Linked DNA regions of Homo sapiens. The protein of the gene in region 6 interacts with the protein of the main gene of each other region in a biochemical or structural test. Each region holds a gene or a part of one and is shown on either strand. Other genes may lie near its edges.

The links.
Region 1: of the proteins of PRKAA1 (region 6) and PSMD11, one has a biochemical effect on the other in vitro, tested with the Homo sapiens proteins (one study listed by BioGRID).
Region 2: of the proteins of PRKAA1 (region 6) and PPM1A, one has a biochemical effect on the other in vitro, tested with the Homo sapiens proteins (one study listed by BioGRID).
Region 3: of the proteins of PRKAA1 (region 6) and EPM2A, one has a biochemical effect on the other in vitro, tested with the Homo sapiens proteins (one study listed by BioGRID).
Region 4: of the proteins of PRKAA1 (region 6) and PASK, one has a biochemical effect on the other in vitro, tested with the Homo sapiens proteins (one study listed by BioGRID).
Region 5: of the proteins of PRKAA1 (region 6) and CRTC2, one has a biochemical effect on the other in vitro, tested with the Homo sapiens proteins (one study listed by BioGRID).
Region 7: of the proteins of PRKAA1 (region 6) and HDAC5, one has a biochemical effect on the other in vitro, tested with the Homo sapiens proteins (one study listed by BioGRID).

The regions. Positions count from the first base shown.
Region 1 is NC_000017.11:32,447,510-32,451,009, reverse strand, and holds part of PSMD11 (26S proteasome non-ATPase regulatory subunit 11), read right to left. Parts: intron 1-3,500. UniProt on the Homo sapiens protein: Component of the 26S proteasome, a multiprotein complex involved in the ATP-dependent degradation of ubiquitinated proteins.
Region 2 is NC_000014.9:60,255,721-60,259,220, reverse strand, and holds part of PPM1A (protein phosphatase 1A), read right to left. Parts: intron 2,398-3,500; exon of another isoform or gene 2,355-2,397; intron 258-2,354; exon of another isoform or gene 1-257. UniProt on the Homo sapiens protein: Enzyme with a broad specificity. Negatively regulates TGF-beta signaling through dephosphorylating SMAD2 and SMAD3, resulting in their dissociation from SMAD4, nuclear export of the SMADs and termination of the TGF-beta-mediated signaling.
Region 3 is NC_000006.12:145,634,521-145,638,020, reverse strand, and holds part of EPM2A (laforin), read left to right. Parts: intron 1-2,534; coding exon 2,535-2,776; coding exon of another isoform or gene 2,777-2,862; exon of another isoform or gene 2,863-2,941; intron 2,942-3,500. UniProt on the Homo sapiens protein: Plays an important role in preventing glycogen hyperphosphorylation and the formation of insoluble aggregates, via its activity as glycogen phosphatase, and by promoting the ubiquitination of proteins involved in glycogen metabolism via its interaction with the E3 ubiquitin ligase NHLRC1/malin.
Region 4 is NC_000002.12:241,142,973-241,146,472, forward strand, and holds part of PASK (PAS domain-containing serine/threonine-protein kinase), read right to left. Parts: intron 103-3,500; coding exon of another isoform or gene 61-102; coding exon 1-60. UniProt on the Homo sapiens protein: Serine/threonine-protein kinase involved in energy homeostasis and protein translation. Phosphorylates EEF1A1, GYS1, PDX1 and RPS6.
Region 5 is NC_000001.11:153,952,113-153,955,612, reverse strand, and holds part of CRTC2 (CREB-regulated transcription coactivator 2), read left to right. Parts: intron 1-446; coding exon 447-548; intron 549-623; coding exon 624-740; intron 741-1,296; coding exon 1,297-1,358; intron 1,359-2,006; coding exon 2,007-2,075; intron 2,076-2,243; coding exon 2,244-2,347; intron 2,348-2,640; exon of another isoform or gene 2,641-2,714; coding exon of another isoform or gene 2,715-2,733; intron 2,734-2,778; coding exon 2,779-2,808; intron 2,809-2,962; coding exon of another isoform or gene 2,963-2,977; coding exon 2,978-3,042; intron 3,043-3,166; coding exon 3,167-3,216; intron 3,217-3,350; coding exon 3,351-3,500. UniProt on the Homo sapiens protein: Transcriptional coactivator for CREB1 which activates transcription through both consensus and variant cAMP response element (CRE) sites.
Region 6 is NC_000005.10:40,770,875-40,774,374, forward strand, and holds part of PRKAA1 (5'-AMP-activated protein kinase catalytic subunit alpha-1), read right to left. Parts: intron 990-3,500; coding exon 845-989; intron 1-844. UniProt on the Homo sapiens protein: Catalytic subunit of AMP-activated protein kinase (AMPK), an energy sensor protein kinase that plays a key role in regulating cellular energy metabolism.
Region 7 is NC_000017.11:44,096,142-44,099,641, forward strand, and holds part of HDAC5 (histone deacetylase 5), read right to left. Parts: intron 1-3,500. UniProt on the Homo sapiens protein: Responsible for the deacetylation of lysine residues on the N-terminal part of the core histones (H2A, H2B, H3 and H4).

The DNA.
Region 1 (3,500 bases), on a different chromosome or scaffold from region 6:
ACCTGGGACACAGGCACGCACCACCACACCCAGTCAATTTTTTTATCTTTTTTGTAGATATGTGGTCTCCTTATGTTACCCATGCTGCTTTAAAAAAAAAAAATTTTTTTTAACAGAGATAGGGTCTTTGCTGTGTGGTCCAAACTGGTCCACATAACTCCTGGCTTCAAGCAATCCTCCCACCTCAGCTTCCCAAAGTCCTGGGATTACAGGTGTGAGCCACTGTGCCCACCTGCATTTTTCAGACTCAGTTCATCATCTGTTTTAGTCTACTACTGTTTTATATTCATTCTTGTTTGTATTTCCTGTTTCCTTCCACTTTCATACATACTGAGTTAATTTTTTTTTAAGTCCCATAAAATCATACTGACTTCCTCCTATTCTTACTGGGATTATCTGTAATTATATGACCAGATTTTCCTTGTCAGAACCTCACAGAACTTGGCTGGGCGCGGTGGCTCACACCTGGAATCCCAGCACTTTGGGAGGCCAAGGCGGGTGGATCACCTGAGGTCAGGAGTCCAAGACCAGCCTGGCCAACATGGTGAAACCTCGTCTCTACTAAAAGAAAAAAAAAAAAAAAAAAATTAGCCGAGCATGGTGGCTCACGCCTGTAGTCCCAGCTACTTGGGGAGGCTGAGGCCCGAGAATTGCTTGAACCCAGGAGGCAGAAGTTGCAGTGAGCCGAGATCACACCACTGCACTCCAGCCTGGGCAACAGAATGAAACTCGGTCTCAAAAAAAAAAAAGGCCAGGCACAGTGGCTCATGCCTATAATCACAACACTTTGAAAGGCTGAGGTGGGTGGATCATTTGAGGTCAGGAGCCCAAGATCAGCCTGGACAACATGATGAAACTCCGCCTCTACTAAAAATACAGAAATTAACCGGGGGTGGTGGTGGGCGCCTGTAGTTCCAGCCACTTGGGAGCCTGAGGCAGGACCTCACAGAACTCAACAGATTCCTTTTAGAAGTTTTAGGCTATGAAATCCTGAGCCAAGGCATCATGTCTGATGATGCTCAACACTACTAACACTACTTGCAATCACAATTACACATCAGACATTGTTTTATTTGGTAATCCCCAAGTGATTTTTGTTGGCCAGGGATCCTATCTTAAATTTTTGAGTAGAATACTTAGCACAATGCTATGCATTTATTAAATGCATAAAAAAACTGAACATTAATGGAACAGACATATTTTCTGTTCTCAGGAGCAAACAATACAAACATATCATTAATAGCAAAGACAGCTAAATATATGTAGGCCTCAACACTTCCTTAGAGTTCCCATTGTGTATACCTATACTCATCAAACTTTCTTAGAAAACAATAAGTAACATGGAAATGTTTTTGAAAGTTCTTATAATTCATCTATTAAATTCCAATAGCTTTAGCAGTACACTTCTAAACTTCTCAGGTCACAAGGCAGGAAGGGCAAGAAATAAGGGGAGAATACATATAAAATAGGAATTTCAAGCAAAACAGTAACATTTTTGGATGAAAATTACTTAAGTATTGACTATATACCACACACTGTTCTTAATTCATGCCACTGGAGGAAAGTAGAAATTTGGATATTTCAACAACAAAAAAATCTTTTTTTGAGACAGGGTCTTGCTCTGTCACCCAGGCTAGAGCACGGCAGTGTGACCATAGCTCACTACAGCCTCAACCTCCTCGGCTCAAGCAATCCTCCCACCTCAGCCTCCAGAGTAGCTGGGACTACAGGCACATAACACCACACCCAGCTAATTTTTCTATTTTTTGTAGAGACAGGGTCTCATTATGTTGCCAGAGCTGGTCTCAAATTCCTGGGCTCAAGGGATCCTCCTACCTCAGCCTACCAAAGTGCTGGGATTACAGGCATGAGCCATCACGCCTGGCTAACAACAAAAAAAATTTTCACATCACTTCAGTTGGCTTTATAATTCAGAAAAATTACCTTATTATATTTTGCATGGAGTAATTATCAAAACTGTTTTGGAACCCCCCAAGCTCAAATTAACTGACAGACAAGTGGAATCCTTATGTATGTTAAATAGGAAGGAAGTCAGCCTAAGATGAAAAGACACCACCCACCAATGATAATTCATTTAAGTAGACAGTTATAGGAAAGCAATAACCATGATGTCATGTGGCTATATGGGCTCTGAAGTAAGACTACATGAGCTCAAATCCTAGGTCTACCAGTTATTAGTTGAATGAGCTTTGTTAAGTTATTTAACTTTTCTGTGCTCAGTATCCTCATGTGTAAAATGGTAACAAAACCTACTTCAAGTTGTTTCGAGGATTCAATTAAGTTAAACCATGTATGTGTTTAGAAGAGTAACCACTTGGCCAGGTGCAGTGGCTCACACCTGTAATCCCATCATTTTGGGAGGCCAAGGCAGGTAGATCACCTGAGGTCAGGAGTTCAAGACCAGCCTGACCAACATGGTGAAACCTCGCCTCTACTAAAAAAAAAAATACAAAATTAGCCGGGCATAGTGGCGCATGCTGGCAATCCCAGCTACTCGGGAGGCTGAGATAGTAGAATCGCTTGAACCTGGGAGGCAGAGGTTGCAGTGAGCCGAGATCGCACCATTTGCACTCCAGCCTGGGCAACAAGAGCAAAACTCTGTCTCAAAAATAATAATAATTAAAAAAAAAAAAGTTCATAGCACTCAAAAACCATTATGGATGGTTCTTTTTATAGCTACTTAATGATGTTTTAAGTAAGATATAAGGCCCATGTAAACACATCCTCACAATTTCATACATCTTTATTCAGCTCTATAGACTGAGCCTAATAATTAATAAGTTAGTTATCTTTAATTGAAAAAAATCACTGGCCGGGCACAATGGCTCACACCTGGAATCCCAGCACTTTCGGAGGCCGAGGTGGGTGGACCATGAGGTCAGGAGTTCAAGACCAGCCTGATCAACACAGTGAAACCTCGTCTCTATTAAAAATACAAAAATTAGCCAGGCTTGGTGGCGCGTGCCTGTAATTCCAGCTATTCCGGAGGCTGAGGAAGGAGAATCGCTTGAACCCAGGAGGCGGAGGTTGCAGTGAGCCAAGATCGCACCACTGCACTCCAACCCGGGTGACACAGCAAGACCCCGTCTCAAAAAAAAAAAAAGAAAAAGAAAAAAAAAATCTTTAGTTCTCAAGTTGAAGAAGTTGTGCTAACTAACCCCCATCATTCTCTTGAACAACATAATTTTAGGGAAAATAATTCATGAGGTCACTTACCAGATCTTAATCCAATCTAATCAAATAAGCTCTAAATTCACTTTAAACTTGACAAAAATCACCCATTTAAGTTTAAACAGACTTCTCTCTAAATACTATTACCACTTTACTGGTAAAAGGTCCTTCCTGATCAAAAGGACTCCCTTCTCATTCCAAGGACACACCCATCATCAGAATATTATGTCAAATCTAATCAGTCAATGGTTCAATTACAACTAGAATGTTTGAGCAATGATGTGCACAAAGTCCTAGGTATGAATGCA
Region 2 (3,500 bases), on a different chromosome or scaffold from region 6:
CAGACTTCAGTTGATATAATCTAACATTTTTCAAAATAGAGTCACTCACTGAGTTCATGAATTGTGACATGCAATTTTTTTGTGTATGTAGGGAGATAGATGCTGAGGAAAGAGAGAAAAAAACCTTTTCAAGTGAAAGTTCTATTTAATAGCTTAAAAAATGTGTAACCACCTACCTCCTATACTTGAATAGCCACACCTCAAATCGCATGGCCCAAAATGAACTTCTCAACTACTGCCACTTCTTAGTTCCACATCTGAGGAAACAGATCTATCCTTAGTCATAAGCTCATAGAATCCTCTATTTCCCTTATCGCAGCATTTATCTGGTGAATTATCTCTCACTTTAGATTTTAAGATCCAGGAGGAAAGAGATTATGTCTTTTTTGTTCATATTTAACACATGACACTTGACGAATACATGAGACAGATGAATAACAGCCATTATACCTTGGCTTCTCCCTTGTCAACACTGATTATCTTCTATGCAGGAAAAAGTATTTTCAGAGAAGTTGGCCGGCCAACAAACTGTATCCTACCATTTTCCATCTATAGAATACATGGTTGTCTTTTATCCCTACAAAAATATCATAGTGGATTTCTAAAAAGAAAATATTGGACCCTAAAAGAAATCTACGGCTTAATCAAAACTTGATTTTCAGATTACTGTTCATCAATGACTTTAAAAAGTTTATCAACATCATTAGATACACACTCCCATTATTGAAAAATGGCACATAAGGAAGGGAACAAAAGAGAAAAAACATAGTTATGACTAAAAGCCCACACATTTTCTTTCCCTGAGCTATTTATTTATTAATCTGCTCATTCATTCAACATTCATGGATGGATGAACTTTTTCTAAAGTTTTCTCTACACAATAAGCCAAGTATAAAGTAATTCAGACACAAACGAATTTCTGGGAGCTGGGAAATCCATTGTCAATGCATTCAATGTAGTCTAGCCAAAAATATCTCTAACTTAATCTTGGAGTTTTACTACATAAAACAAGTAATACTATTTACACTTATAGAGCTACTTATTTTACTGACTGTAGCAAACCAGAAAAGATCACACTAGATGGCTGACTAGTTGAAACACCTGCTTACTGTATCAAGAAGCATTTACGCAGAAAGAGAAAATGAAGATGACAGATATGGACTAACAAAGGGTAAGCTGTGGGTTGGTCACAAAACAAAAACTGCCACTTCTAAGATTGGCCCCTTGGCAACCAAAACAGTCTTACAGGCTGTCAGAAAGGATAATACCCTACTGCTTTACAAAAAGTGAAAATTTTATTTCCTATCTACTTAACATTCTGAGGTATGATGGCATACTGCAAAGATGTTTTTCTAAAGCCTGGTAAGTTATGAGATTCTGTTTGGAAAAACAAAAACAAAAAAATATATAGCCATCCCTTATCTTTTATCATTCACATTTTCATTTCTGAATTTTGGTAATAAAGGTAAGCACACTTCATCTTTATACACACAGTACCAAATTATGATGTGATCCTACTAGTCATGATAAAGAAAAAGGTAGTACTAAGAATCCAAGACATTCAAAGTTGGTAATGAATTATATTCTTATTCTTTAAAACAGTACAATAGACAATTCTTGAATAACATATTCTTTAAAATAATTAAGCCACCTAAAGTATAACTAAAAAAAGAATGTTTACTTACATCCCTCCCTGAGGTGGTCATATTATAGATGAATACAAAACACCAGCCTAAATTTAAAGTGATTATACATGACCCATGCTTTCTCATAGTCTGCTGTATTTCCAGCTCACATTCAATTTTCTGTCATGTGTTCATCAGAAAATGAACAGGGAGACTATAAAAATTTAACAGTCATATATTGATAATCTCTTTAAATGAATGAAACAAGACCTGTTTTTAAGGAATTTATTTTCAATAAACATTGAAGTTACCATTTATAGTATAATCTCTATTGTAAACTCAGCTAGCTTGTGTTTAAGACTATCTTCTCAGACTCACTGAGAATTTCATTTGAATAAAGGATCTGTGAAATAATTTATATCAGTGGGTTGCAAAGTAGTAAACATGAATAAAATTTTAAGCCATAAGAAAAAAGTGTGTATGGCTTGTGGAACTAATTGTATTATGGCCATATCTTATGCTTTTTTAATATTAAAAAATGTAATAGCTCTTCTTGGGGAAAATTTCTAAAGGGAGCTAACATATGATAATATACTTTTCAAACTTAGTATACACTGCCACCTCAAATCCCAACTCAATCACAAGATTCACTCTCTGGATACAATGGAACAACAGTCATACCCTTCATGTACAAAGATTTTGACCCATCACAATGGCCAAGAGACTTACTTTCCGCAGTAGCAATGAAACCGCATGGATCAACAAATTATTTCTGCAAAGTCCAAGAACATGTATTAGGCTTCTGTTAATAGCTCTGAAACTCTTGGCAAATAACTGCTCTGTTTCAAATTTCCTCATCTGTTAAGATATAGGTAGTAACAGTATCTAGCTCATAGGGCTGCTATGAAGATTTAATGAGATAATAATTGAAAATCTATTGTAATAGTCCCTGGCACATAAGAGCTCAATAATGTTAGTTATCATTGTTAGTTGCTAACGTCAAGGCTAGGAAAACATAAGAGGAACACAAAGTATCAAGAGGTCTCATTAGCATTGTTCTCTAACAAATGGATCTAAGCCGGCACTGACTGACTATATGAAATTATCCATTTAAAAAGCCAATAAATTTTACTATGTATTTTCTTTTTTCTTCTTCTTTTTTTTTAGACGATGTCTTGCTCTGTTGCCAGGCTAGAATGCAGTGATGCAATCTTGGCTCACTGCAACCTGTGCCTCCCGGGTTCAAGCAATTCCCCTGCTCAGCCTCCTGGGTAGCTGGGACTACAGGCGGGTGGCCACCATGCCCGTGCCACCACGCCTGGCTAATTTTTTGTATTTTAGTAGAGACAAAGTTTCACCATGTTGGCCAGGATGGTCTCCATCTCCTGACCTTGTGATTCACCTGCCTCAGCCTCCCAAAGTGCTGGGATTACAGGCATAAGCCACCACACCTGGCTGGTATTTTCTAAACACTGAAAATAGTCTAGCATTTTGATAAGCTTGAAAGTCTAGCTTAGAGGTTTATTTGAACACAGAGTATGCATATTATTAGATACTTGTTGGGTTCAAATTAAATCAGCTGATAGTTATCTCTCTTCTTTAACACATCATCTAATTCCTGTGATTCCACAATTCCTCTCTGGTTAAAAGGACACAAAGTTCATGATAATATTTGCAAATGTAAAATACTCTGAAAAGAGATATGTGATTATAAATGTCCTGTTAACCCTCAAAGCCAAAATGTAGGAAGTTAAAATGAAGCTTGTAGGTCCAGGATCAGTCAACCTAGTCTTCTACATCAATATAAGAACACTGCCACACTTCAGATTTGTATAATCTTCACACTTAAATATCCAGGTTCAGAAAAAATAACAT
Region 3 (3,500 bases), on a different chromosome or scaffold from region 6:
TCTATTTCTTGGTTATGTAACGGAAGTGTCCACTTCCCTCTTTTCCAGCTTAGGAGCTTTAGTGTGCTCAGTTGAACCCCAAAGTATACATACGTGAGCCCAGCACTATCACCTCACTAGGCATCCAGCAGGTCCCTGGGTAAGGGATCTTTGAAAGATCTGGAAAGAGGGATGGGACATCTAGTTAGAGGCAGGTCTCACTCAACAGCCAGAGGGAAGGGGCAATCAGCAAGTGGGTGTGACATTTCCCCCGAATACTCAGCTATCCAGGTCCTGATGAAGCTCGGCTCTTGGGCACCCTGCAAGTGTCCTTGCTCAAGGTCTTTCTCTCAGTACACTGGGTCCAGTGGAATATCTAAGAATTATCTGGATCCAGGGATAAGATGAAGGCCTTGGATTTCATGCCTCTCTTTCCATCACCATTAAGTCTTTTGCCATTTCTAACTTTTCTTTTATCATTTTTTTCCCATAATAATCCTCAATAAGGATTTCTGCAAGGAAATTCCTAATAACCCTTTAGACAAGAACACAAGTAGAAAAAAAAAAAAAGTTGTTCTTCTCCTGCAGGGGAAGCAGGGCTCAGGCTTTAGACAGATAGTGCCAGATCTTATGAGATAATTTTCACTGATTATGGGTCATGACCACATTAGAGGATTAGTTAATTGGCTTCTCCTGTTAACATCAACAATGACAACCACCACCAAAAGGAAAAAAGCAAAAAACAAAAAAAGCTAGCTTTCATACAAAAAAATAGGGTATCTTCTACTCTGTAGCATTCAAATGAAGAATATAGGAAACAATGAAGAATTAACTGAATAATCTTTACAATGCAATGCAAAGTAAATTACAAAAATAAGTAAATCACTATAGCTACACATGAAATCCGCTTGCACTTACTGTGCATCCACGGTTTCAGTCCAATTCAGGTACATTAATTGTATTTATTCCTTACAAGATTTTTATGAGTTATTTTTAGACCCATTCTAAAGATGAGTACACCAACAGGTTAGAGTTGATAAATAACTTGGCCTAACATCATACAATTGTTACTAAATGTTATACGAAATCTTTTTTTTTTTTAATTTTTTTTTTTTTTTCAGACAGGTTCTTGCCCCATCGCCCAGGCTGGAGTGCAGTGGTGTGATCTTGGCTCATTGCAACCTCTGTCTCCTGGGTTCAAGCAATTCTTAGGCCTCAGCCTTTCAAGGTAGCTGGGATTACAGGTGTGTGCCACCACGCCCAGCTAATTTTTGTAATTTTACTAGAGACGAGGTTTCTGCCATGTTGGCTGGGCTGGTCTGGAACTTCTGGCCTCAAGCAATCCCCGCCTCAGCCATCCAAAGTGCCAGACTACAGGCGTGAGCCACTGCGCCAGCTTCTTTTTTGGTTTTTACATTTTTCCTTTTGGCTGTTGTTGTCAACATTGTTAACATGAGAAGCCAATTGCCCAGTTCCCTAATGAAGATCCACCACTGTCTTTCTAAAACTTCAGTTCTGCTTACCCTACAGGAGAGAATAAACTTTTTTTTTTTTTAAGAGATGGAGTCTCACTCTGTCACTCAGGCTGAAGTGCAGTGGTGCAGTCTCGGCTCACTGCAACCTCCGCCTCCCGGGTTCAAGCAATTCTTCTGCCTCAGCCTCCCCGGTAGCTGGGATTACAGGTGTCCACCACCACGCCTGGCTAATTTTTGTATTTTTAGTAGAATTGGCCAGGCTTGTCTAGAACTCCTGACTTCAGGTGACCCGCCTGCCTTGGCCTCCCAAAGTCCTGGGATTACAGGTGTGAACCACTGCATCCGGCCAGATAAGCGTGTTTTATGTTTTTTCTCCTTGGGTTCTTGTCTAAAGGGTTATTAAAATTTTTCTGAGTTTTTAACTTTTTCATTTCATTATTTTTTTCTATAATAAACCTCAATGATAATTTCCAAAAGGAAACTATATTGCTATTTCTCCTTCTTACCTTGCAGCATTAGATGAAACCTATAGAACACTGCTAGGTACTAATGGAATTAATGTTGATTCTGATCTTATTAAAAGAAGTCTGTTGTTTTTTAGCTTCTGTTCTTTAGCATATGTTAAAAGTCTCATACTATTTGAAATATTTGCATAGACTTTTAAACCGGAATGCCTGCTGAAATTTGTTTTTCAGAATTTATTTATATAATTACAGGAATTTTCACCTCTAATTTGTTAGCATTTGAAGTCTATTGATGGATTTTTATCATGTGGAACCATATATGCATTCATGGAATAAGTACAACTTGGTAGACTTATTTTAATATATTGCTTGATTTGGTTTGCAAATGTCCATTTCCTGGCGTTCTAGTTAATTGAAATACTTGCTTTCCCCAAAGCAGCAACACCAGTACTTTTTCTTTCAATAATAACATTGGTGTTCATATTCTAAAATATCTAGCTTTTCCTGTGCCAGACTTAAAGGTTAGTTATATTTTAATACTACATGTTTTATGCAGCTCCTTAAACCTCAAATCAGAACAACACTAGTGATAGTTGTCTCCATATGTTCTCATTAGAATTCTACCAAATATCTGGCTGGGTAGCTGCCCTCGTCAGGTGGAACATGTAACCATCAAACTGAAGCATGAATTGGGGATTACAGCTGTAATGAATTTCCAGACTGAATGGGATATTGTACAGAATTCCTCAGGCTGTAACCGCTACCCAGAGCCCATGACTCCAGACACTATGATTAAACTATATAGGGAAGAAGGCTTGGCCTACATCTGGATGCCAACACCAGATATGAGCACCGAAGGTAAGGATCAGAACTGTTCTGCCTCCTTGCTGTATTTCAGAGAAACCCTTGCTGTCTGTCTGTCTATCTATAATTTAATATCTTAAAAATGAATGGTAGAAATGGAATAAATATAAGATTTTAGATTTAATATATATAATACATATGTTTTGACACTGTGGCTAAGATTCTGTTTAATGTGGCTTCTTTGTTTATTCATTCAACACATATTTATTGTGTATGTACTGGGTATGCGGCATTATGCTAGTAGCTAGGAACACAGCAGTAAAGAAAGACAGGCACAACTTCTGCCCCCACGGAGCGCATTGTCCTATAGGGATGGCAAATGTTAATCAAATGACTAAAAATAGAAGTTTAAAACTATGATGAATTTTTTGTTAGAAAATATATAGATATTGCTATGAGATTATGTACAGGTAATCAGGCCAAGAAGTGGGGTCAAAGAGGGTTTTCTTGGAAAGTAGTGTTTGGGCTAAGATCTGAGGGTGGGCTGGAGGAAGAGTGAGTGGAGGGAGTGACCCAGGCAGAAGCAGCAGCTTAGAAGAATCCTTGTGGCAGGAGAGAGCACAGAGTGTTGCAAAAACTGAAAGACCAATGTGGCTTGGATCAGAGAACGAGGAAAGATGATCCTGCAGGATTTGAGCGACAAAAAGGACTTTAGACGCTATCCTATAGCAGGAAGAAGCAGTTGTACAGTAAGACGAGTTCGACACTAATTACAGCA
Region 4 (3,500 bases), on a different chromosome or scaffold from region 6:
GAGGCTCTGGGAAAGGCATCTCTGGTCCTCTTCAAAGGCTGTTAAGCCCCCGTCCTCCATGGGAAGAAGGGAGGCCAACTGCCAAGCTTCCAACTCTAACAACTAGAAAACAACATGAAGCTGATTAACATCTGCAATGCAAAAACACAAAGACAGTTTAACCAACTAATTTATAATGCTGAGTTCAGCTCGGCCCCAAAAGACATACACCACCAACCGCCATCCTGGGTCAGAACCCGCAATGGGAGAATGGTCCACCCAAAGTGGTGCTAAAAGAAGCTCTTTCCGGGCCAGGCACGGTGGCGCACGCCTGTCATCCCAGCACTTTGGGAGGCTGAGGAGGGCGGATCACGAGGTCAGGAGATCGAGGAGATCGAGACCATCCTGACTAACACTGTGAAACTCCGTCTCCACTAAAAATACAAAAAATTAGCCGGGCATGGTGGCGGGTGCCTGTAGTCCCAGCTACTCGGGAGGCTGAGGCAGAAGAATGGTGTGAACCCGGGAGGCAGAGCTTGCAGTGAGCCGAGATCACACCACTGCACTCCAGCCTGGGCGATAGAGAGAGACTCCATGTCAAAAAAAAAGAAAAAAAAAAAGAAGCTCTTTCCAAGAAAAATACATAGGAAGATATGGGAAAGAGGGAAGGAGAGAGAGAGGAAAACAAAGAACAGGGTGGGAAGGAGCCATGAGGGAAGGCAGGGACTGCAGGTACACACCAACTGAAAATACTCCCAGGTCATGATGAACCCATCAGCACGTGGGGGCTGCACAGCTCCCATGGTCTCAGCTTTCCCCTAAACAGTGAGTCCTGACCATCCGACCAGCTGTGCACAGAATCACCTGGGTGCTGCCAACAAGTGAGGTCGCGGGGGCCATGGCCAAGAGGCCATGTCTCCTAGAGACAGGCCTGGCACCAGAGATTTGTATTTTTAGCTTTTCTCTTATACATGATTCAAATGCTGATACAGGGTGGAAATACAGGAAAATCTCACATACTCTTCCGAGTTCCCTCTCATGGTGACATCTTACAGGAGAGTGTCACAGCCAGGAAACTGACTTGATACCATCCATCAGCCTCGTCCAGATTTCAAGGCATTTACCTGCAGGTGTGTGTGTGTGTGGGTGTGCGTGTGTGTCCGTGCGTGTGTGTGCGTGTGCACATGTGTACATGAGCGTGTGTGTGTGCGCGCATGTGAGCACGTGTTCCATGCAGTCTTGTCACATGTATACATTCATGTGACCACCCTGCAGAGTGGAGATACTTAAGAGTTCCATCCTGCATATTGGCAAGCACTTGAAACACAAGTACACATTTACCAATACCCTGTCCTCATGGCCAAACTCAACAAAAAGAGCCCTTAAAGCAAGAAGATTTCCTCTACTGGCAGGAAGCCCCCACCTGGTCATCCAGGCTTTAGATAAACAGCAAGAGGAGGCTGTGGCCAATACCAGAACCATGGCTGGAGTTTCCCCCACGAAATGAGGAGACCCTGGGGCCAAGGCAAGCCCAACCACACCCCATATACCCTCTTCTGGACCACCTTCTGGGTATCCAGAACCCCAGAGTTCCCAGCCAAAGGGTCTGGTGCCCACTTCTAAGACACACACAGGCCTCTTTCCACCCAGGTCCTCCCACACTGGCACACCTATAGCCGTGAACTGGCTGAGGAGCAGCCTTCCAGGAATAGCGAGCTTGGACAAGCTAGCAGGATGCCCACACGAGGCCCTTCCAAGACAAGGCAGGCCTGGGGTGAAGAGGAAAGGGGAGGTGGCCCTCCCAACACCACCTCTTCCAATATGGAACTCCAAGGAGTCCCCCCTCCTTGCCTTATCCTAGCATCTGGTGGCTACTGGCCATACTGGCCATCTTTGGTGTTCTTGACCTGCAGCTGCGTCACTCCAGTCTCCGCCTTCGCCATCACAGAGCTTCTCCCTGTTTGTTTGTTTCTTTTTTTTGAGACAGAGTCTCGCTGTGTCGCCCAGGGTGGAGTGCAGTGGCGCGACTTCGGCTCACTGCAACCTCCGCCTCCCGGGTTCACGCCATTCTCCTGCCTCAGCCTCCCGAGTAGCTGGGACTACAGGCAGCCGCCACCACGCCTGGCTAATTTTTGGTATTTTTAGTAGAGTCAGGGTTTCACCGTGTTAGCCAAGATGGTCTCGATCTCCTGACCTCGTGATCCACCTGCTGCGGCCTCCCAAACTGCTGGGATTACAGGCGTGAGCCACCGCGCCCGGCCGACTTCTCCCTGTTTGTATGTATCTTCACATGGCCATCTTTTTTTTTAACTAGGAGATGAGGTCTCACTATGGTGCCCAGGGCATAAAAGATCTGATCTGTGGAAGTCAAAACACTAAACTTTTTAGCCAGGCAGGTCTCGTGGCCTGCACCTATAGTCCGAGCCACTCTAGAAGCTAAGGCAGGATAATTGCTTGAGCCCAGGGAGATGGAGGCCAGCCTAGGCAACAAAGCGAGACCTGTCAAACCAAATAAAATATAAAATAAAATCACTAAGTTTTTAGGAGAAAAGAGGCTATCTGTAAGACTTTGGGGTAGGGAAAGTTTTCTTAAACAAGGCACAAAAAACTCTAGCTATAAAATAAGATTAATAAGTTTAACGTTAAAATTGAGAACACATCACACCTGTAATCCCAGCACTTTGGGAGGCCGAGGCAAGCAGATCACGAGGTCAAGAGATCAAGACCATCCTGACCAATGTGGTGAAACCCCATCTCTACTAAAAAAAAAAAAATTAGCTGAGCATGGTGGCACACACCTGTATTCCCAGCTACTCTGGAGGCAGAGGCAGGAGAATCGCTTGAACCTGGGAGGTGGAGGTTGTAATGAGCCGAGATGACACCACTGCCCTCCAGCCTGGCGACACAACCTGGCAGGTGGAGGTTGCAATGAGCTGAGATCACGCCACTGCACTCCAGCCTGGCGACACAGCGAGACTCCGTCCCCCCCAAAAAAAAGAAAAAAAAAAATGAGAACACAGCTTCACAAAGAATACCATAAAGAAAACGAAAGAACAAGCCACAATTTGGGAGAAGATATTTGCCACATACATAACCAACAGAAAATTAATATCCAGAATAGCTTTAAAAGATCAACTATTTAAAATTTAAACATTTTTAAAAGACACATGGCCCAATAAAAAATGTCAAGAAATAGGAACAAGCGTTTTACAGGAGAGGAAATCCTAATCATGATGATGTTATACCTACTAAGTCAGCAGAAATGAAGAATCTAGTAATACCCAATGTCAAAAAGGATTTGGATCAACAGGAACTCTTAATACATTAATATAATCTCTTTAGAAAACAATTCAAGTGAAACATTTGTCTATATGGATACAGCACTTTTCACTTAGATTTATATTTCAGAGAAATTTTTGCAAACAGATAAGAAGACACCAGAATGTTCGGGACAATATGGTTCTCAATGGCAAAGAGACAGGCAGAAAAAAGGGAGGGAAGAAAGGGAGGGAGTGCGGGAG
Region 5 (3,500 bases), on a different chromosome or scaffold from region 6:
TCTACTTCCTGGGCTGAAGTGATCCTTTTTTTTTTTTTTTTTTTTTGAGACAGAGTCTCTCTCTGTTGCCCAGGCTGCAGTGCAGTGGCACAGTCTCGGCTTACTGCAACCTCCACCTCCCAGGTTCACGCCATTCTCCTGCCTCAGCCTCCCGAGTAACTGGGACTACAGGCGCCCGCCACCACGCCCGGCTAATTTTTTGTATTTTTAGTAGAGACAGGGTTTCACGGTGTTAGCCAGGATGGTGTCGATCTCCTGACCTTGTGATCCGCCTGCCTCGGCCTCCCAAAGTGCTGGGATTACAGGTGTGAGCTACTGTGCCTGGCCTAGATATTTTAAAAGCAGTGGCGGCAGCAGCATATCCTGGTGACAGAGATGGCAAGGATGGCTGAAGGAAATAGTGCTCAGGACCCTCCTGACATTCCCACTTGTTCCCCATGTCTCAGTTACAGGCCCAAAAACTGCGACTGGCATACACAAGGAGCTCTCATTATGGTGGGTCTCTGCCCAATGTTAACCAGATTGGCTCTGGCCTGGCCGAGTTCCAGGTGAGTAGACCCCAGCCAGGGAGGAGTGGAGTTTCTTAGGCTGCTTCCTCTGCTGACTTCTGTCCTTTTTGGCAGAGCCCCCTCCACTCACCTTTGGATTCATCTCGGAGCACTCGGCACCATGGGCTGGTGGAACGGGTGCAGCGAGATCCTCGAAGAATGGTGTCCCCACTTCGCCGATACACCCGCCACATATCCTTCACAGGGGACTTGGGAGTGTCTGAAAGGTAGTGGGATGGGGTTCCTCAGGGACTCATAGGAAGCACTTGAAGTGTTGTGCGTCCCTTCCTTCTCTTGGAGCTCTTCTTTACCCAGCTTCCCTGAAAAGCGACCATAGCCCCTGCGTCAGCACCTGCTCCTGTGACAAGGAGTTTTGCTCCTGAGGCTGTGCCCCCTGTCTCTGGCTGGCTCTGGCTGTCTTCACATCAGCTTGCTGCCAGAGGCAAGCCTTCCTTGTCTCCTGCTAAAGGAGATTGGGTCTCTTCTCAGATTTCTAAGTTTTCAGTCTCAGAGACCTGCATAACTGTCTCCTCCAAGCCCTGCCTGAACATTCTCCTGGATTTTTTCAGCCCCTTTAGACCTGATTCCCTTTTTCTCTTCCATTCTTTGATCCTATTGTTGTCCCTTATAGAAGAGGAGAAAGGTATGAGTTTCTTGAAACAACTTATCTGCTGCCTTCATTGTTCTTTCCTCATTTGGCCTCTCTCATCTGTCCTCTCTACTTTTTTCCTTAACTGGTGCTGTTCACATTGACAGCTCTCCCTATAGTCCTGCCTACTTATCTCCTCCCCCAGAGTCTAGCTGGCGAAGGTAAGTGTCCAGGGCGGGCAGAAGCTCCTGCCTACTCTCTGACGTGTTTCTGGAAGGAGTTGCCCCTTCTGGGTTGGGGCTGGGATTACTGGGCTAAGGTTTCAACAGTACCTCTTCCTATAACGCCAGGGCTGAGAGAGGTGGAGACAGTTGGAGTAGGTGGGTCAGAGTCCAGCCTTGGCCATGTTGACACTAGTGGTCAAGCCTCCCAGTCCAGCCAGAGCAGAACCAATGGGAACCATAGCCAGGCTGGGGTGTGTGTGTAAGGGGGAGGGGAGAATGGCAGAGGGGCAGGTGAAAATGGCAACCTTCTGTCAAGGGTGGGTGCAAGATGTAGTGTTCTGGCACTTTTAGATTTCTTAAACTCTCCCCTTGTCCATCTCACTTTCAATGCTCATACCCAGGAATGCTGCTGGGCTCCAAGATTCCCATTCAGCTGGTCCTGGCAGAGAGAAGTTTCCAGCTCTCTTAGATTGACTGGGGGAGGGGTCAATCATAGGCAGGAGAAGAACCAGAAAGAAAAGGGGATGATCTGGGTGCTCAGCCATCTTTACTTCCACCTTAGCTGCCCCACATTTTCCAACCCCTATGCCCACCTTCTTGTCCACTGCCAGCCTTCCTCCTCATGACTTTGTTTTTCTACCCCAGGACGATGGCCTGGGGCAATTTCCCTGCAGAGAAGGGGCAGTTGTTTCGACTACCATCTGCACTTAACAGGTGATGGCTTTTGCCTTCTTTAGGCCAGATCTCTTATCTGTAGTTTCTGGGGCCCTGCTCCCTCACCCCCACCCTGTTCCAGACCAGCTAGTGTTTTCCCTTGCTGGGCAGGGCTTAGGGACCAGGAAGACTGTCACTGGTGTCAGCTCATTCCTGCTCCCCCCATAGGACAAGCTCTGACTCTGCCCTTCATACAAGTGTGATGAACCCCAGTCCCCAGGATACCTACCCAGGCCCCACACCTCCCAGCATCCTGCCCAGCCGACGTGGGGGTAAGTGGCCCTGTCCCAGGGTTGGGAGTAACCATGGAGCTATTTATTTATTTATTTATTTATTTATTATTTCTTTCTTTTTTGAGACGGAGTCTCACTCTGTCGCCTAGGCTGGAGTGCAGTGGCGTGATCTCGGCTCACTGCAACCTCCGCCCTCCGAGTTCAAGCGATTCTCCTGCCTCAGCCTCCTGAGTAGCTGGGATTACAGGCATCTGCCACTGTGCCTGGCTAATTTTTTGTGTTTTTAGTAGAGATGGGGTTTCACCATCTTGGCCAGGCTGGTCTTGAACTCCTGACCTCGTGATCCACCTGCCTCGGCCTCCCAAAGTGCTGGGATTACAGGCATGAGCCACCATACCCGGCCTCCATGGAGCTATTTAAAGCAGGTAGGCAAGTGAGCACTGCAGCCAATGCCACTGTATCCCTTGCAGGTATTCTGGATGGTGAAATGGACCCCAAAGGTATGTGTTCCTCACTGCTGTGGGTACTGAATGCCAAAGAATTTCTGGGCTGGTGTTGGGATTGTGTGCAGGTTCAGGGAGCAGGACTCCTTCCCACCTGCTTCTGCTTCCTGTCCTGCCTTACTGGCTCTTTCTCCAACTCTCCCATCACCAGTCTTTCTCTTTCAAGTACCTGCTATTGAGGAGAACTTGCTAGATGACAAGCATTTGCTGAAGCCATGGGATGCTAAGAAGGTAGGAGGAGGCCACCGGGTGTCACCCACTAGTCTCTCTGCTATCCCCTTGCCATGGGGCAGGCCTTCCAGGGTTCTCTGCTGAGCACTGTCCTCATTTTCCATATTCTCCCTTCTCTCCTCAGCTATCCTCATCCTCTTCCCGACCTCGGTCCTGTGAAGTCCCTGGAATTAAGTAAGTACTCCCTGAGGTTGGCTGAGAGGTGGGGGAAGGAAGTACAGGGAGATGTAGGAGACTGATCTCTGCTCTTCCCTGACCACTGCACCCACCCTCCTATTTACATCTTTCTTTTTCTCTCCTTCCCCTAGCATCTTTCCATCTCCTGACCAGCCTGCCAATGTGCCTGTCCTCCCACCTGCCATGAACACGGGGGGCTCCCTACCTGACCTCACCAACCTGCACTTTCCCCCACCACTGCCCACCCCCCTGGACCCTGAAGAGACAGCCTACCCTAGCCT
Region 6 (3,500 bases):
GCCACCACGCCCAGCCAAAATAAATTCATTTTTAACAATCAAAATGTTCTTTAAACAAATTATAATTTACTATCATTTAAAACATTTTTAAATTTTTAAATAAATTTTTTTAATTAAAAAATTGTTTTAAATAATTTTAAATAATTAAATTCACATAGTTCACTTCTGGTTTTTAAGGTTTTAAATAATTCCATCCCACTCACTTTCCTTCTTCTCCATACTTGATTCTTTTGAACATACTGGAAATAAAGCTGCTACCTTCTCTTTCACAAATAATACTCTTTTCAAATAGTCTCTCTAATACTACCAACTTAAGTTGTTTAAAATTTAATTTTAAAGATATTTAAAGAGCCAGGTGCAGTGGTGCACACCTGTAATCCCAATACTTTGGGAAGCTGTGGTAGGAAGATCACTTGAGGCCAGGAGTTCAAGAGCAGCCTGGACAACATAGTGAGAACTTGTCTCTACAAAAAGACAAAACAGCCTGGCATGGTAGTGCACGCCTGCAGTCCCAGCTACTCAGGAGGCTGAGGCAGGAGGGTCACCTGGCCCAGTAGTTTGGGGATGCAGTGAGCTATGATCACGTCGCTGCCCTCCAGCCTGGGCGACAAAGCGAAACCCTGCCTCTATAAAATAATAGTAATAAAGACATTTAAAGCTAAGAAAAGATGATTTCTTAGCTTTTCTTCTTTTTGTATCTTCATAGACAAAACAGAATACTTTGATATACTCAGTCTATTACTTTATGTAATCTTTTACAGTTATCTGAAGAATTCTAGGTAGGTTCATTGAAACTATAAGAACATTAGAAATGAACGTTAAGAAACTATAAAATTATCCTTACCAAAATCAGCTATCTTTGCATTCATGTGTGCATCAAGCAGGACATTTTCAGGTTTCAAATCTCTATGGACCACCATATGCCTGTGACAATAATCCACACCAGAAAGGATCTGTTGGAACAGACGCCGACTTTCTTTTTCATCCAGCTAAGAAAAGTTAGAGAGGCTTTTTAAAGGTGTGTCTTTCAAAGTAAATTGTCCTATCTATAATTCTCCAACCTATAAAATTGTCAAAATACATGAAAATCTTCCCAATGAACTTCACTTATGAGATACTTTTGACATGAGGAGGAGATACCTGCAGCACAAAACAGAAATGCTAAGATGGTCTTGGAACCCAAATCAGTAACTCAAGTTTCTAATATTATCATTTGCATATGACTACATTGTAACAGCTTGCCTTCCTCTATATCTCATGAGTTATTTCAAATAATTTCAATATCTACTTGAAATTTGGCATATTTCCTTTTATAAGCGGCAAATGTTTACTCTTTCATTCTTTTAACAAATTACTGAATACCTTCAACGTGCTACACATTGCTTTAGACACTCATTACACAGCAATGAATAAAACAAAGGCTAATCTAGTTGATGAAAATAGACTAATAAATATAGTCAGAAGGAGTGATACTGTTTTGAAGAAAAATAAAGCAAAATATAGGTGCAGTGAGTGATAGTGGGGTGAGGGACACTATTTTAGACCATGAGGAAGTAATATTTAAGCACTATTCATAAACCAGCAAGCAACTATGTTGCTATATGTCCTAAAATAGAAGACATTTTAACAACAAACACCTTAATTCATTTAATAAAATATCATAGCATTTTATCTTTAATATGCTTGCTAAAAAAAAAATCTTACATAGCAACTACCTTTTCATTTTTGTTTTTTGTGTTTTTTTGGGGGGGCGGGGTTTTAAATTTATCTATATTTTGAGATCCAGTCTCGTTCTGTCATCCAGGCTGGAGTGCAGTGATGCCATCACGGCTCACTGCAGCCTCGGCTTCCCTGGGGTCCCGCAATCCTCCCACCCCAGCCTCCTAAGTAGTTGGGACCACAGGCACATGCCACCACGCCCACTAATTTTTGTATTTCTGATAGAGACAGGACTTTGCCATGTTGCCCAGGCTGGTCTCGAACTCCTGAGCTCAGGCAATCTACCGCTTCAGCATCCCAAAGTGCTGAGATTACAGACATGTGCCACTGCATGCAGCCTGAAGTATTTTTTTTAAACTTCTCTATGTATCCATATATTATTACCACTTTTTTCAACATAAGTGACAGCCATTACTTGGACATGCCTGCTCCCAAGAAGTCATATTTAATAAATAAGCTATTAATCCTCTAGGCGAAGGACTCCAATATGCAATTCTCTAACACAGGTCACAAATTAGCATTCTAAAACCAGACTTACACCTTAAAGGGCATGGATAATATGGGAGAAAATACAAATCAGTAATTTATTTTGAAACAAGAAACTATTATAAGATACCATTCCTCTAGAAAAATACTAATCCTTTAGCATTCTAATACTTTTATTTCTAGATTTGTAGGTTCATGGGGAAAAAAAAGAGTATCTGTTCAAATATGAAAAAATAGGAGAAAACTTGATTAAACAAAATATAAAAAGTAAAATAGACAGGCTACAAAAATGAAAATTATACTGTATTAGTAACAAGTACAATTACAAAGGATGGAGAAAGGGATGTCTATAAAGGAAGGTTAGAAAAGTCAAAATACATTTCCAATTAAATGTAACAGATTAAATCTTTTGTCTCCAACTCTTGAAACATCACTAAAATGACATCAGCAATAAAACAGGCATATAAAGACAAAAAGAACAAAAGAGACAGCAGTAATCAAGAGGAGTCACCAAGGATGACAATAGATAAACAGTAATAAAGACTAAGCCTACAAGAGAAAGCTAAAACCTAAGCCTATAGGGGTAGAAACCAGTAAAAAATAAACATCTGCATACAAAGCCTGGGAAGCCTTAGAAATTGGAAACACAGGGAACTGCTCAAGGTAGAAGTGAGAGATGAGCTGAAAACAGGACAAGTGCTTGAAGTAAGAAGCTTTTAAACTCACCCATATTGGGGAATAAGACCTATAATTTACTCTAGTAAGGCTGAACCAGCTCTGCTCTCAAGGACACCAAGGCAGGGATAAGGCATCCTAAGGAAAACATGGGGGCTAAGACAAAGTCAACATACTAACTAGTGAGACTTGCATCTCTTTTCTCCACTCAGCTCCTGGAGCACTGGCAGCTAAGCTAAGGCCTTTAAGGAAATGGGAAGGTTTCTTCTGGAGCAAATATCTGATCCAAGAAAACATATTTGTTATTATTAGCATTTGGTATACAGTAATAAAACAGACAAGTCCCTACCTATTCAAGCTATGAGAAAACCCAGCAATCAGTAAGTCCTACCCACATGAGCCTGGCATTTAATACCCTATTCTTAAATATTTAGTGGACAGCCAAGAATCACCAAATATCTGAAGAAGGGCCATGCATCAAAGACAAAAATGAATAAAATGAATGCAGAGAGCACAGAAGGTACAGAACAAGACGGAACAGAGGAAGACTTTTTTTAAAATGCCATCCTCAGACTAGGTTATTATATCTGTGAGGCAAATAACAGCAGACTAAAAAAATG
Region 7 (3,500 bases), on a different chromosome or scaffold from region 6:
GTCTCCAGCCAGGAAGGGGAAGGCAGGATACCACTGCCTGGGAAGGCGGAAGTGAGAGAGGCAGGCCAACCCATTCCTGTTTCTCTTCTACTTCTTTCTCCAAAGAAAGCCCTCACTCTCCTCGCTACAGCCCAGGGAGGTCACGAGGGGCTGGGAAGACTCCTGTGGCAAAGTGGCCCACTCCAGCCCAGGCCTGAGAAAAAAGGACCCCGAAATCCTTCTGGCTACCAGTATCTTCTGCCTTCATGAGCTGGCCTCTCTCCAGACCACCCCCCAGCATTAAGAGGCGAGAGAGGGAAAAAAAAAACAAAAAACAAGTTTTGGTTTTTTTTTGTTTTTTTTTTTTTTGGAGATGGAGTTTTGCTCTTGTCATCCAGGCTGGAGTGCAGTGGCACAATCTCGGCTCACTGCAACCTCTGCCTCCTGGGTTCAAGCAGTTTTCCTGCCTCAGCCCCGCAAGTAGCTGGGATTACAGGCACCCGCCACCACGCTCAGCTAATTTTTTTGTATTTTTAGTAGACACAAGGTTTCACCATGTTGGCCAGGCTGGTCTCAAACTCTTGACCTCAGGTGATCCGCTCGCCTCGGCCTCCCAAAGGGCTGGGATTACAGGCATGAGCCACTGCCCCTGGCCTTTTTTTTAGATGGAGTCTCACTGCAACCTCCGCCTCCTGGGTTCAAGCAATTCTCCTGCCTCAGCCTCCCAAGCAGCTGGGATTACAGGCGCCCACCACCAGGCCTAGCTAATTTTTGTATTTTTAGTAGAAACGGGGTTTCACCATGTAGGTCAGGCTGGTCTCGAACTCCTGACCTCAGGTGATCCACCCGCCTCGGCCTCCCAAAGTGCTGGGATTACAGGCATGAGTGACCACACCCAGCCGAACAATTTTTAAAGAGAAGAGAGGGAGGTGGGAGGTAGGAGGTGGCAAAGGGTGGGCTAAGAGAGGCCCCCACACCTGTTTAGATGGGTCTGGATCTCTCCAGAGAACCTAGCACTGAATGGGTGTCACCAAGGCAGGAGCAAGGCCTGCTGGAGGCCGAGGCCAAGGCCATGCCACCCACATGCCTGGAGTATGGCCTCTGGAACCCCCTGCAGGCAGGGTGGGGTGGGAGAAGGTAAAAGCTCAGCATGATGTAGCAGTCCCCACCAGCCTCTTCTCCCCCAGGCATGGTTGGGAACATTCCTCTGTGGTTTTCCCGCCAGCCATACTGACGACTCTGTGGCCACAAGGCCAGAGCCACATGTGCAGAAGTGGCCAGATGTGGCCAGAGGGTGGGGTTACACATACTCATCTTCATTCCCAACCCATGTCCTGCCCCAGCACCAGGAGAAAGGGTCCTTGGAAACTGCAGAAGGCCTTCCTGGAGGTAACTAGCCACAGCCCACGATGGTGGCAAGGAAATGGCAGCCAGCTCAGGTCTCCCCAGCCCGTGAAGTGCTCAGCAAGGCCCTGAGCTGGCCGGAGGGTTATCTGTTCTTAGTCAAGCTTGGCTTGGCCCGTGGCACTCTGATCACTCAGCCAAGCAATGGACAGCCGTCAACCTGCTGCTCCCGGCAATGCCGGGGTTGTAGGAGCCAGATTCCAGCCTGCCTGCCCAGGGAAGGGCAGAGGTCCAAGCACTCCTGGCTCCCAGCAGATAACCCTGCCTAGGGCTGGAACTGTCGCCAGCAGTACTGGCTTCCCTTGCAGGAGCCCTGCAGAGAGCACATGGGCTCAGGCAAGGGGAATCTCCCACCAGCCTGTCACTGCCACTGCAGCAGCAGAGATGTTAGGCCCGGAGCTGCAGCGGGAACCACAGCCCTATTGGTATGCAGGTGGCAGGGCAGGCAGAGGGCTCTGCCATGCAGCCTCGTTCCCATGCAAACAGGAAGCACAGGCGACTCCAGAATATTAATTTGCAGGACCTGCAGGGACTGGGTGACATGCAGCACCCCAGGGGTTTGCCAGGTAGCAACCTGCTCCACCCAAAGTGGAAGGGGCCATGGCTACTCTGCCTGAGTCAGGGAAAGGAGGGGCATGGAGCCCCATGAATAGAGTCTGCCCAGGCACAGACCCTGGAGCCTGGCGGGCCTTGCACTCTCTCAAGGATCTGTGCCCTCTGCCAGCCTGGCATGAGCAGAGCAGGTGGCAGCAGTTGCCATCAGCACCAAGCACCTGGAAGGGGAAGTGGTTGTGTCATGATAGGAAGAGGCTCTTGGCCGCCTCCTGGTGGACTAGGAAGGCTGGGGAACCTCTGGGAAAAGAAGAGGATAGACAGGCCCGGGGCGTGGTGGCCAGTTACCCAGGGCTGTCTCTTAAAAAAAAGGGAACCTGGGCCAGGCGCAGTGGCTCATGCCTGTAATCCCAGCAGTTTGGGAGGCTGAGGCGGGCGGATCACCTGAGGTCAGGAGTTCAAGACCAGCCTGGCCAACATGGCAAAACCCCATCTCTACTAAAAAATACAAAGATTAGTTGGGTGCGGTAGCGGGCACTTGTAATCCCAGCTACTCAGGAGGCTGAGGCAGGGAGAGTTGTTTGAACCCAGGAGGCAGAGGTTGCAATGAGCCCAGATCATGCCACTGCACTCTAGCCTGGGTGATAGAGCGAGACCCTATCTAAAAAAAAAAAAAAAAAGAGGGTAGACGAAGGGGCACTGTTCCCTAAGAGGACAGGCCAAGAGCTCTGGCTAGCAAAGAGCCCCACTGAAAGGCCAGGGAGAGCCAAGCGTTGGTGGCTATAATCCCAGCATTTTGGGAGTCCGAGGCGGGAGGATCACTTGAGGTCAGGAGTTCAAGACCAGCCTGGCCAACATGGAAAAACCCCATCTTTACTAAAATTACAAAATTAGCCGGGTGTGGTGATGCATGCCTGTAATCCCAGCTACTCGGGAGGCTGAGGCAGGAAAATCACTTGAACCCGGGAGGCAGAGGTTGCAGTGAGCCAAGATCGCGACATTGCACTCCAGCCTGGGCAACAAGAGTGAAACTCTGTCTCAAAAAGAAAAAAATGAAAAGAAAAGAAAGCCAGGGAAAGGTTCACAGGGGAGGACAAGGACCTGGGTCCTTCCCTCACCTGCCAGGACTTCACTCTGATGGGAATCGAGAGGCCAGTAGAGCCACCTCCTGCAGAGGTCAGAGGCAAGGCTCTGGGGGAAAGCCTTGGGCCCCCCGCACCCAGCTCTATACTTTCCTCTTTCCCAGCACTGAGAACCTTCCTTCTCCTGGGAGTGGTGGCCTCAGTAACAAGCAGCAGCACCATCCTGACCTCTGGTTTTCTGCAGGGCTGACCACCCTGCCTCCATGGGAAGTCCCAGCCTGGGTTGCTGAGTGGGTGGGGCTGTGTGTGTTTCGTTTTTTCTTTTTTTTTTTTTGAGACGGAGTCTCGCTCTGTTGCCCAGGCTGGAGTGCAGTGGCGCGATCTCGGCTCACTGCAAGCTCCGCCTTCCAGGTTCACGCCATTCTCCTGCCTCAGCCTCCTGAGTAGCTGGGACTACAGGCACCCGCCACCACGCCCAGCTAA